Linked DNA regions of Homo sapiens: region 1 is linked to region 2. The links come from fine-mapping of genetic effects on gene expression. Tissue or cell type: skeletal muscle. Region 2 holds a variant in brackets; the other region holds the start of a gene. All regions are shown on one strand. Distances are between the middles of the regions. Region 1 holds the start of TMX4 (thioredoxin related transmembrane protein 4). Region 2 overlaps TMX4 (thioredoxin related transmembrane protein 4).

Region 1 (4,394 bases), 28 kb after region 2:
AATATTTTAATAATTCATGTCTACAGTTCCCTTTAATAATTTCATTGATTTATTATGATACCAAGGGTATTTCATTTGGAGGTCTAAAATATCCCCTTCTTTGTGACTAAGAGGTAAATGCACATTTGAAGGGGTGATATGCCTTATGTTCTTCGAGCAATGTAATCTGCTGTGTGACATAAATTTTGGCTCTGATCTCACACTGAGGTTTTCACTCCATAGGCACCTGCTTGCAATTTAAATTGAAAGAATCAAAACTTGGTCTTGGATAAAGGAAAGATCCAATTTTCTGTCTGTGTCCTCAACGTAAAACAAAGATTCAATAGTAGTATACAGATTGCCAGAAACCACAGGCTAAAGAGATGTGGCAATTTCCTGAAAGATTTTATGTTTGGGGGGTGGGGGCGGGAGGGGGGCAGGTAGGGTGGAAAGGAGTTGTGGGAGGGGAGAGAGAGACAGAGAGAGAGAGAGAGAGAGAGGAGGGAGAGAGAGAGAGAGAGAGGAGAGAGAGGAGAGAGAGAGAGAGGGAGGGAGGGAGGGAGAGAGAGAGAGAGAGAAGAGAGAGAGGAGAGAGAGAGAGAGGGGGAGGGAGGGAGGGAGGGAGGGAGGGAGGGGGAGAGAGAGAGAGAGAGAGAGAGAGAGAGAGAGAGAGAGAGAGAGAGTCTGCAAGCCCACCATGATGGTCTCTCAAGCCCGCTCAGACATCTGCCCACCATCCACTGCAAGCCTCTTTCAAATGGTCACTTCCTATTATAAGGTTAAACTATAATCAACAAATCCCTTTCTTTCTCCTAACTCAAAACTGTAGTTTCCCATCTCCTTAAAGAAAAGGCACTATCCACCATTTGCTTTCTATTGTTAAAAGGGGCAATGCGTATCTTCTTTTCTTTATGGCACAATTATTAATATTACTCAGAAAGTCCTACCTTTACAAGTTATAATAAGTATCAACATTTATTTGAAATCATACTGTAAAATTTAAAAGGCATCCATATTTATGTTTTATTCTCACAATGACATCTCCAGGTCTTCAAACGGAAGACTACGACACAAATGGCCTGCCTTCACCGTGCTGCAATTTCTTCAACAGGTAACTTGCTTAGCCTGTGCTACGTATTCATACTGCACGTGGATGTCACTGAATGTCCTTTCTCTTCCAATACATATCTGTATCTAAAAGCACACGGTTTGCTTGCAGATTTTCTTCCTTCCCTTCTCCTCCCTATGGGAAGCTGCCCACTCCACCCCGAAAACACTGTCCCCCAAAGCAAGGGGACGCGCTGCACCCTCGGCTGTCACCGCGAGGGCTCGGCGCGCATGCGCGGCGCGAGCGGCCGGGCCCCACAGCCGCAGGTCGTTGGTAAGGCGGGTCCGCGGACCCCAGGTCGAGCCCAGCGGCAGTGCAGGATCGCAAGCGGCCCGGCACCGGCGCCGCAGGTTGTTGGCAAGCCTGGTCCGGGGTTTTAGGTTGAGCCCAAGCGGCAATGCGGGATCGCCACCGGGCCGCGCGGGCTTGGGAGGGTGACGCCCGCGAGGACACTGCGGCGTCCGGGGCGGGCGGGCACACTCACAATTTCAGCATCCACTCGCCCTCCATCACCAGCGTCCAGTTGGAGGCGGTCATGGGCTGGACCCGGCTCTGCTCCGGCGGCAGCGCGGCCTCCTCGGGGCCTGCCGTCGCCGCCACAGCCGCGATCCAGGCGGCCAGGAGCGCCGTTAGCTGCGGGCCGCAGCGCCCACCCGCCATGTTGGGCGCCGAGCGAGGCTTCTCGGCGGGGAGTGTGGGGAAGGGCAGCGGCCGGCCCGCAGCCTCGCTCGCCCGCCGGGTTTTTCAAGGAAGCGGGAGACGCAAGGGCCACCCCGCCTACGCCTAGCGGCGCAGACTGGCGGTGCTCGCAATGCCGCGGAGGACGCCACCTCTTATCGCCGCTTGCCCGTCGAGGCCACGCCCCCTCCCGCCTCCACTTGCCGTTGCCCGGGGTGTCGGTTACCTCAGCAACCACCGCCCTTTCTTCCTGACCGCCAAGCTGACAATAAACAGATGACCCAACGTTGCCTAAGTTAGAACATGCACCGCTGCTGCCCAGGCTCCAATAAGGGCAGGGTTGGCGCGTGTGGGCTTCTCTAAAGGGAAACATGGCCAGTAATTTTAAAATCCATCCCCTCTTCAATGATAGCAAATATAAAAGCAACGGGCTGCAAGGTACACGTATGTTTAATGAAAAATGGAGGGACGTGGTGAGTATCTCCTGCTGAAGAGAGAGGAAAATTTAAGTACTCTGCATGTGTATATTGAAGCATCACTAATTTAGGATATTGATGAAACTAGCCTATGCAATTGCATTTTTTTTACAAAAAATGTTAATTTCATAGAAACTCTTAAAAACATGGGTACTAGCCGATAAAATGAGTCAATTAAGACTATTGCCACCTGCAGTAAAATGGACCTCACATTTCTCTTGACTACAGTTTTGTCAGATCTAAAATGAGGGTAGCCTTAAGTGATTTCCAAATTTCTTTCCAGGTCACATTAGATGAATCTGTACCTTGGGACCACCACACCGTTAATATATAAGACTGGATTACAATTAAAGGATGAGGAAGCTTTCTCAAAGGGTGCTTTGTATGTGTTTACTAGTTGTGCAAACCATGAACCTCGGTAATGTGGTTAATAGACCATGAAAAGGATGTGGTTTCTGCCCTCGGCTTAAAACAAAGACAGCAATAAGACTAAAAGTACTTCAGGGCACATGAGAGCAAATTTCAATCAATACTTATAGGAGAGGGAAGTTAATTTTGCCTGAAGAGAAGATCTGGCCTGCATTATGCATTAATTAGTATTAGCTAAAAACTATGTGGACCTAGCCCTTATCATTAAAATAAAACACTCAAGGGTTTACAAACTATTGAAATTTAAGAAAATGTCTTTGCAATGAATGCTACTAAGACTCACTGTTATTAAGTACATACATATCAATTCCATAAACTCAATGGAAAACATTTTACTGTGCTTGTAAAAAGAAGTGACTCATAAACAGGAATTCTGTCATTTTATCACTTTCATGATAGAATGATGTGTAGAATTTGTTTTACAATGCTCCAGAAATAAAATGTAGGGAATGGAAAGAAGATAGGTGAAAGAAAAGTGGTGCAACATCAGTCAGTGTTGAAGCTAAGTTCATTTTGCTACTTTACCTACTCATGCATATGTTGGAAAATTTACAAAATGAAAAGCTAAAAGGAGAGAGAGCATCTTCAGCATGAAAGACAGCCATTACCAAAGCATTTCCTATCTTTAACAAAAACTGAAGTCTTAGCCTTCAGACTAAGGATGGTAGGAAGAAAGTAGCAAGGAAGTATGGGACTGACCTTGCCGTAAGGAGTCACAGACCAGGGTAAGGGACCTGTTGCTGTCAGACCATGATTGGCATCTTAGCCCTGACACTTCCTAGCCATGTGATTTGGGGCTAAAACTAGTCCACACCAAAGTTCTCTTAAAATGCGGGTAGTAATAGAACCTGCTCCAAAAGGTGGCTGTGAAGATTATATGAGATAAGAATAATGCCTAGCACATATTCTAACTCAAAAAGCTTACATATTAGGTTGGTGCAAACATAATTGTGGTTTTTGCCACAATATTGCCAACACTAATATTATTATTTGGAGGCAACAATACGCTGTAATGTCTATTTTTCTTATACTAAAGTTAACTTCACTTAGCATGATACACAATGCCTCTCACAGCCCAGCTTCAGTTTTGCCCACTTTACATTCCACTATTCCCAGAGTTCCCTGTGTCCTAGTAACACAAAGCTACTCCCCATTCCCAAAGCACATTGTGTACTTCAGTGTCTCCTTGCTCCTTCATTCTGATTAGAACACTCTTCTCCAGTTGTCCAGTGAATCATTCAGTCTCTGTCATGTAGTCCACACTGTACCTCTGATAGCTCATGCAGAATGAGCTGCTGTCTCTTCTCAGATCCAATTGCTCTTCTGTATAACTGATATGGTTTGGCTCTGTGTCCCCATCCAAATCACATTTTGTAGCTCCCCTAATTCCCACGTGTTGTGGGAGGGACCCCATGGGAGATAATTGAATCATGGGGGCGGGTCTTTCCCATGTTGTTCTCGTGATAGTGAATAAGTCTCATGAGATCTGATGGTTTTAAAAATGGTAATTTCCCTGCACAAGCTGTCTCTCTTTTGGCCTGCTGCCATCCGCGTAAGACATGACTTACTCCTCCGTGCCTTCCACCATGATTGTGAGGCTTCCCCAGCCATGAGGAACTGTGAGTTGAATAAACACTTTTTCCTGTATAAATTACCCCGTCTCGGGTATGTCTTTATCAGCAGCGTGAAAATGGACTAATACAATAACTTCACCACATACCTTT
Region 2 (4,394 bases):
TTTAGATCATTGTGTTTCTGTTTCTTTAACTACCAGGCAAAGTGACAGTTTTCACTTGTGGAAAATACTGATCCTTATTCAATATTATATGTGCTTACCACAAGGAAATATCCCATGCTGTTCGCTGAAAATGCACAAAAATGTAAACTGATGGGCATGATACCTTATACTATGGTACTAGATGAATAAGAAAGTATCTTACTCGGGCTGGGCGCGGTGGCTCACACCTGTAATCCCAGCACTTTGGAAGGCCGAGGCGGGTGAATCACGAGGTCAGGAGTTCGAGACCAGCCTGGCCAATATGGTGAAACCCTGTCTCTAACAAAAATACAAAAATTAGTGGGGCTTGGTGGCAGGCGCCTGTAGTCCCAGCTATTTGGGAGACTGGGGCAGGAGAATTGCTTGAACACGGTAGGCGGAGGTTGCAGTGAGCTGAGATCGCCCCACTGCACTCCAGCCTGGGTGACACAGTGAGACTCTGCCTCAAAAAAAAAAAAAATCTTAGTCTGTTCACTGAAAATGCACTAAAATGTCATCTGATGGGTGTGACACCTTATACTATCATAGTACATGATTAAGTTAGAGCTAACTTTTGGCTACATACATATTTGAGTGAGAAGATGAAATTAAAACATCATTACAACAGAATAAATGAGAAGAGCATTCTAATCAGTGGTCAGACAGACTTAAGGAAGACAGCCAAGCCAAGGCCTCCATGCATCTGAGGTAGAGCCTTCCCTCCCCAGAAAGGCAAGCACTCCCTCTGGAAGTCTAAACTACTGCAGGTTGGATTAAATACTACTTAGTCACACCCACTCATCCAGCCCAGTGTTGCAGAGTCTCATTCAAACCTAGACTGGCCCTGAAGGACAGAGAGCCTTTGGATTTAGAGTTCACCTGTGTCATAGGATATACTCTCTGAGGAGTTCTGGAACAAGCCCTTTATCTCTTTCAGACACAGATCAGAATCCCCAAAATATCTTCCCTGCAAGGAAACAGCTAGAAAAGACTCTTCAATGATGGCCAAGGGTTCACCTCTTTCATGCTTTAGCTCTTAGCACTTGTAACAAAACATAACCTTGCAGCCTCTTGTAGGATCTATGAAAGGTACCTTACAGATGTGCACCACTGTCTCACTATAACATTCTACAAAACATTCTAAACATTTTTATACGAAAAAAACATTGAGAAGAGGCATGCTATGTAAATCACAGAAGAATGTTTTCAAGTTTTAAAATACACTTTGTTCTTCTCTAGTCTAAATGTTCATGGCTTTTAATTCTCATCATCAGATATTTTAAATAAAGCCTTAAGTTTTCTGTCACGTCATTCTAATAAAAAGGGAAGGTAGCATCCATCACACAGATTGTCCTCCCAAGGATGTAGCACATCTTATTTTAGCTAAAATCTGCCATATGCCTACATCCTCTCAAAACGACAGTAACATTTAGGAAAGGGAAGTTACATCCTATATTATCAGTGAGCAGCAGAGATTCAACAAATCCAATAAAAAATGCTTTAAATACATTTAAATGCTAAACTTAGTTCGCAAAAGCATATACAGGTTGAGTATCCCTTATTCCAAATGCTTGGGACCAGACAGCCTTCAGATTTCTGATTTTTTCAGATTTTTGCATTACACTTACCAGGTGAACATCACAAATCCAAAAATCGGAAATTCAAAATGCTCCAGTGAGCACTTCCTTTAAGTGTCACGTTGGTGCTCAAACAGTTTCAGATTATGGAGCATTTTGGATTTTGGATTTTTGGATTTGGGGATGCTCAACCTATATGCTGAGCAACTGCCACGGAACCCTATTTTAAGCCTGCTATCAGCATTGGCTAAAAAAATTAACAAAAGTTAAAGTATTCCACGTTGGCTATAAAGAGAAGGAAAAAGTAAAATAATGAAGACAATAATGATTAATACATATAACTAACAAAAAGCAATTATCAAGCACATTAACTAGGTACCAGATTCTGCACTAGGCACTCAAAGGGTTCTAGGAACAAGTCTATGGCTGGAAAAAAAAAAAATAGGATTCAGGGGCCTACACATAAGGTGTGAAACAATGATGTGTTTCTGGAAGAGAAGGATAGTG[C/CCACTCTGTAG]CACTCTGTAGCACTGTAGCCAACTGTGAAAAGAGGGAAGACAGAAGACTGGACAGTCTCTCTCCACACATGTGCCACACACAAAACCCAAGAACTTCTAATCCTAACTATGCCACCAGACTTGGCAGTGATGCTTCCTGAAGTTCAATCTTCTGCACATTGCTTTTATGATATTCACCTCACCTTGTACTATCCATTAGAGTATTAACATTTTTCATTTAGTCACTAAGTTGCATACAATTTTAAAGAAATTGGATATTGCTACTATAATATAAAATCAAAATCAATTTTGTCCTTTGAAGATGTCAACTCTCTGAGAAACTCCTCTAACTGTCCCATCTCCTAGGCCTCAGTGACTCCATCTGTGAGATGGGTAAAATGTTGAGACTATTTGTGAGGATAGATATTAACAGCTAATGAGGTAATTACTTCTGTGAGTTTATATAAAAATTAAAATATGCAGGTGAGCGCCATCATGAGTGAATTGGAAAGAAAATTTAAATTTAGTGATGGAAAGAACACTGGAGATCATCTACTCTTGTCCATATTGTGGTATGAATGACATATCGAGGATCCCTGGGATTCAGGGTAACAGCAGGAAGCTGACAGGAACTGCCTCATAAGACTATTCAAGGGACTTTCTCACCTCAACAGTTTACTCAAGCAAGAACATAGGGGAGGTTGGTATGAAGTTAAGAAGGCCAAATGCAAACCAAACCAACTCCTGAGTTGATAGGAATTCGGCCATGTGAGTGTCTCATCACCAGGTGATCCTAGAATCTTGAGGACCAGCTTTTATCTCCAGAATGTGCAACCTAGCAAGTTGGCTTCACTTCTAAGGCAGAAAGAAACCCAAGCCCCTTAAGGAATCACTAATTCAGTAGGCGCTGATCTTCTAGATATATCTCTGATCTTCTAGATATCTTCTAGATAATTACTAGCTCAATAGGCTCTGATCTAAATATATTGTTTTCATTTTTTCATTACAGAAGAAAATAGAAGTTATAGAAAAAACGTTTTTAAAAATCACCCATATCAGAGAAAACTACTGTTGATCTCTAAGCATTTTCCTATATACACACAAAAACGCCATATAAACATCCATTATACTGTTTTGTCATCTTCCCTGCAGATATACTTACATCTAACCAGCTACCCATCCAGGGAAGACTGTTGCTGAGGAAAGACTGATTTCTATCTGTACATGTATCCAGATATTTCAGTAAGATAAAGAGACTATGGATAGGCATAAACAATCTTGTCTCACTGGCATTAGCCATTCTACGTCTTTCCTTCTTCCATCTTTATAATCTTCTTTCTCTGAGACTTTACACTTTTTTGGTTCCACCTTCCATCCCTAGTCTATTTCTGTCTCACCATGTACAGTTGTTTCTTCTGTTCATTATTAATATATTTGCATTGTAGTTTCATATGATCTAGACATGAGTTAAAAAACAAATACGTTTGCCACAATTATACATTCAACATGGATTTGAGGAACTCTGACTAAAGGAAGAGTCAGCTAAATGAGCTAACTGAGCAGGCAGGGCAGTCAGCTGGAAGGACTCGCTGAGTAAGTGGCTCTATAAAGACAGGAAGGCAAGACCATAACTAAAGGTGGGAGTGGGGACCAGAGACCTGATGGGTAGCCAAGGACTGGGTCTCTTTAGGTCAGAGATGGTGTGCCTTATAAATCAGAGGACAAGGGCCACATTCTAGAAACACAGGTGGCAAGAGACCTACCTACAGATCTGATGAAAGGATGGGGACTTATTTCTAAGAATAAATCACAAAAGTTGGCAAGAGGCTTGGGGAGGCTACATGCTGATATGGAGGGCAGTATCAGATTTCACAAATTATTAAGGTAATGCACACACACACACACACACGGAGATCAAAATAACACTGTATCATTTGCGTTCTTTTATGTGCAACTCTCTTCCATTCCCCTACATACACACACCCTACAATCAGGACAAATGTTTTAGTGATCCCAATAAATATAAATGGATTAAATTCATCAGTTAAAAGAATTATATCTTGCTATATACTTTTTATAAGATTTATTTAAAACATAATCAAAAGGTTGAAAATAGAAAAATTACTCCATGCAAATGCTTATAAAAAAGAAAACACATGGTATTAATACTAGATAAAACTATTTTACAATTATACATTTATATAATTGTACATTTTGCATTCTACATTTTACAATTATAAAATGTAATTACTTGTGTGCCAAATTTTAGTTTATCTTATAAAATGATCATTTTTGGTTCCTTTTGGAAATAT

Evidence for each region. PIP is the estimated chance that this variant, and not a neighbour inherited with it, causes the effect.
Region 1: it holds the start of TMX4, and the variant in region 2 is the best candidate, but not a certain one, in a credible set for the expression of TMX4 in skeletal muscle (GTEx, PIP 0.55).

The regions. Positions count from the first base shown.
Region 1 is chr20:8,017,867-8,022,260 of GRCh38, forward strand. TMX4 (thioredoxin related transmembrane protein 4) reads right to left here and starts at 1,895. Exons shown (of 8, transcript NM_021156.4): 1 at 1,572-1,895. The coding sequence starts at 1,747. TMX4-AS1 (TMX4 antisense RNA 1) reads left to right here and starts at 2,040. Exons shown (of 7, transcript NR_184034.1): 1 at 2,040-2,238; 2 at 2,525-3,395; 3 at 4,193-4,289. RefSeq lists silencers at 1,406-1,545, 1,656-1,895.
Region 2 is chr20:7,989,810-7,994,203 of GRCh38, forward strand. The region is part of intron 5 of TMX4 (thioredoxin related transmembrane protein 4); the gene reads right to left. Among named protein-coding and RNA genes, the nearest start is that of TMX4, 28 kb to the right of the region's middle. The variant C/CCACTCTGTAG (reference allele first, on the strand shown) is at 2,103.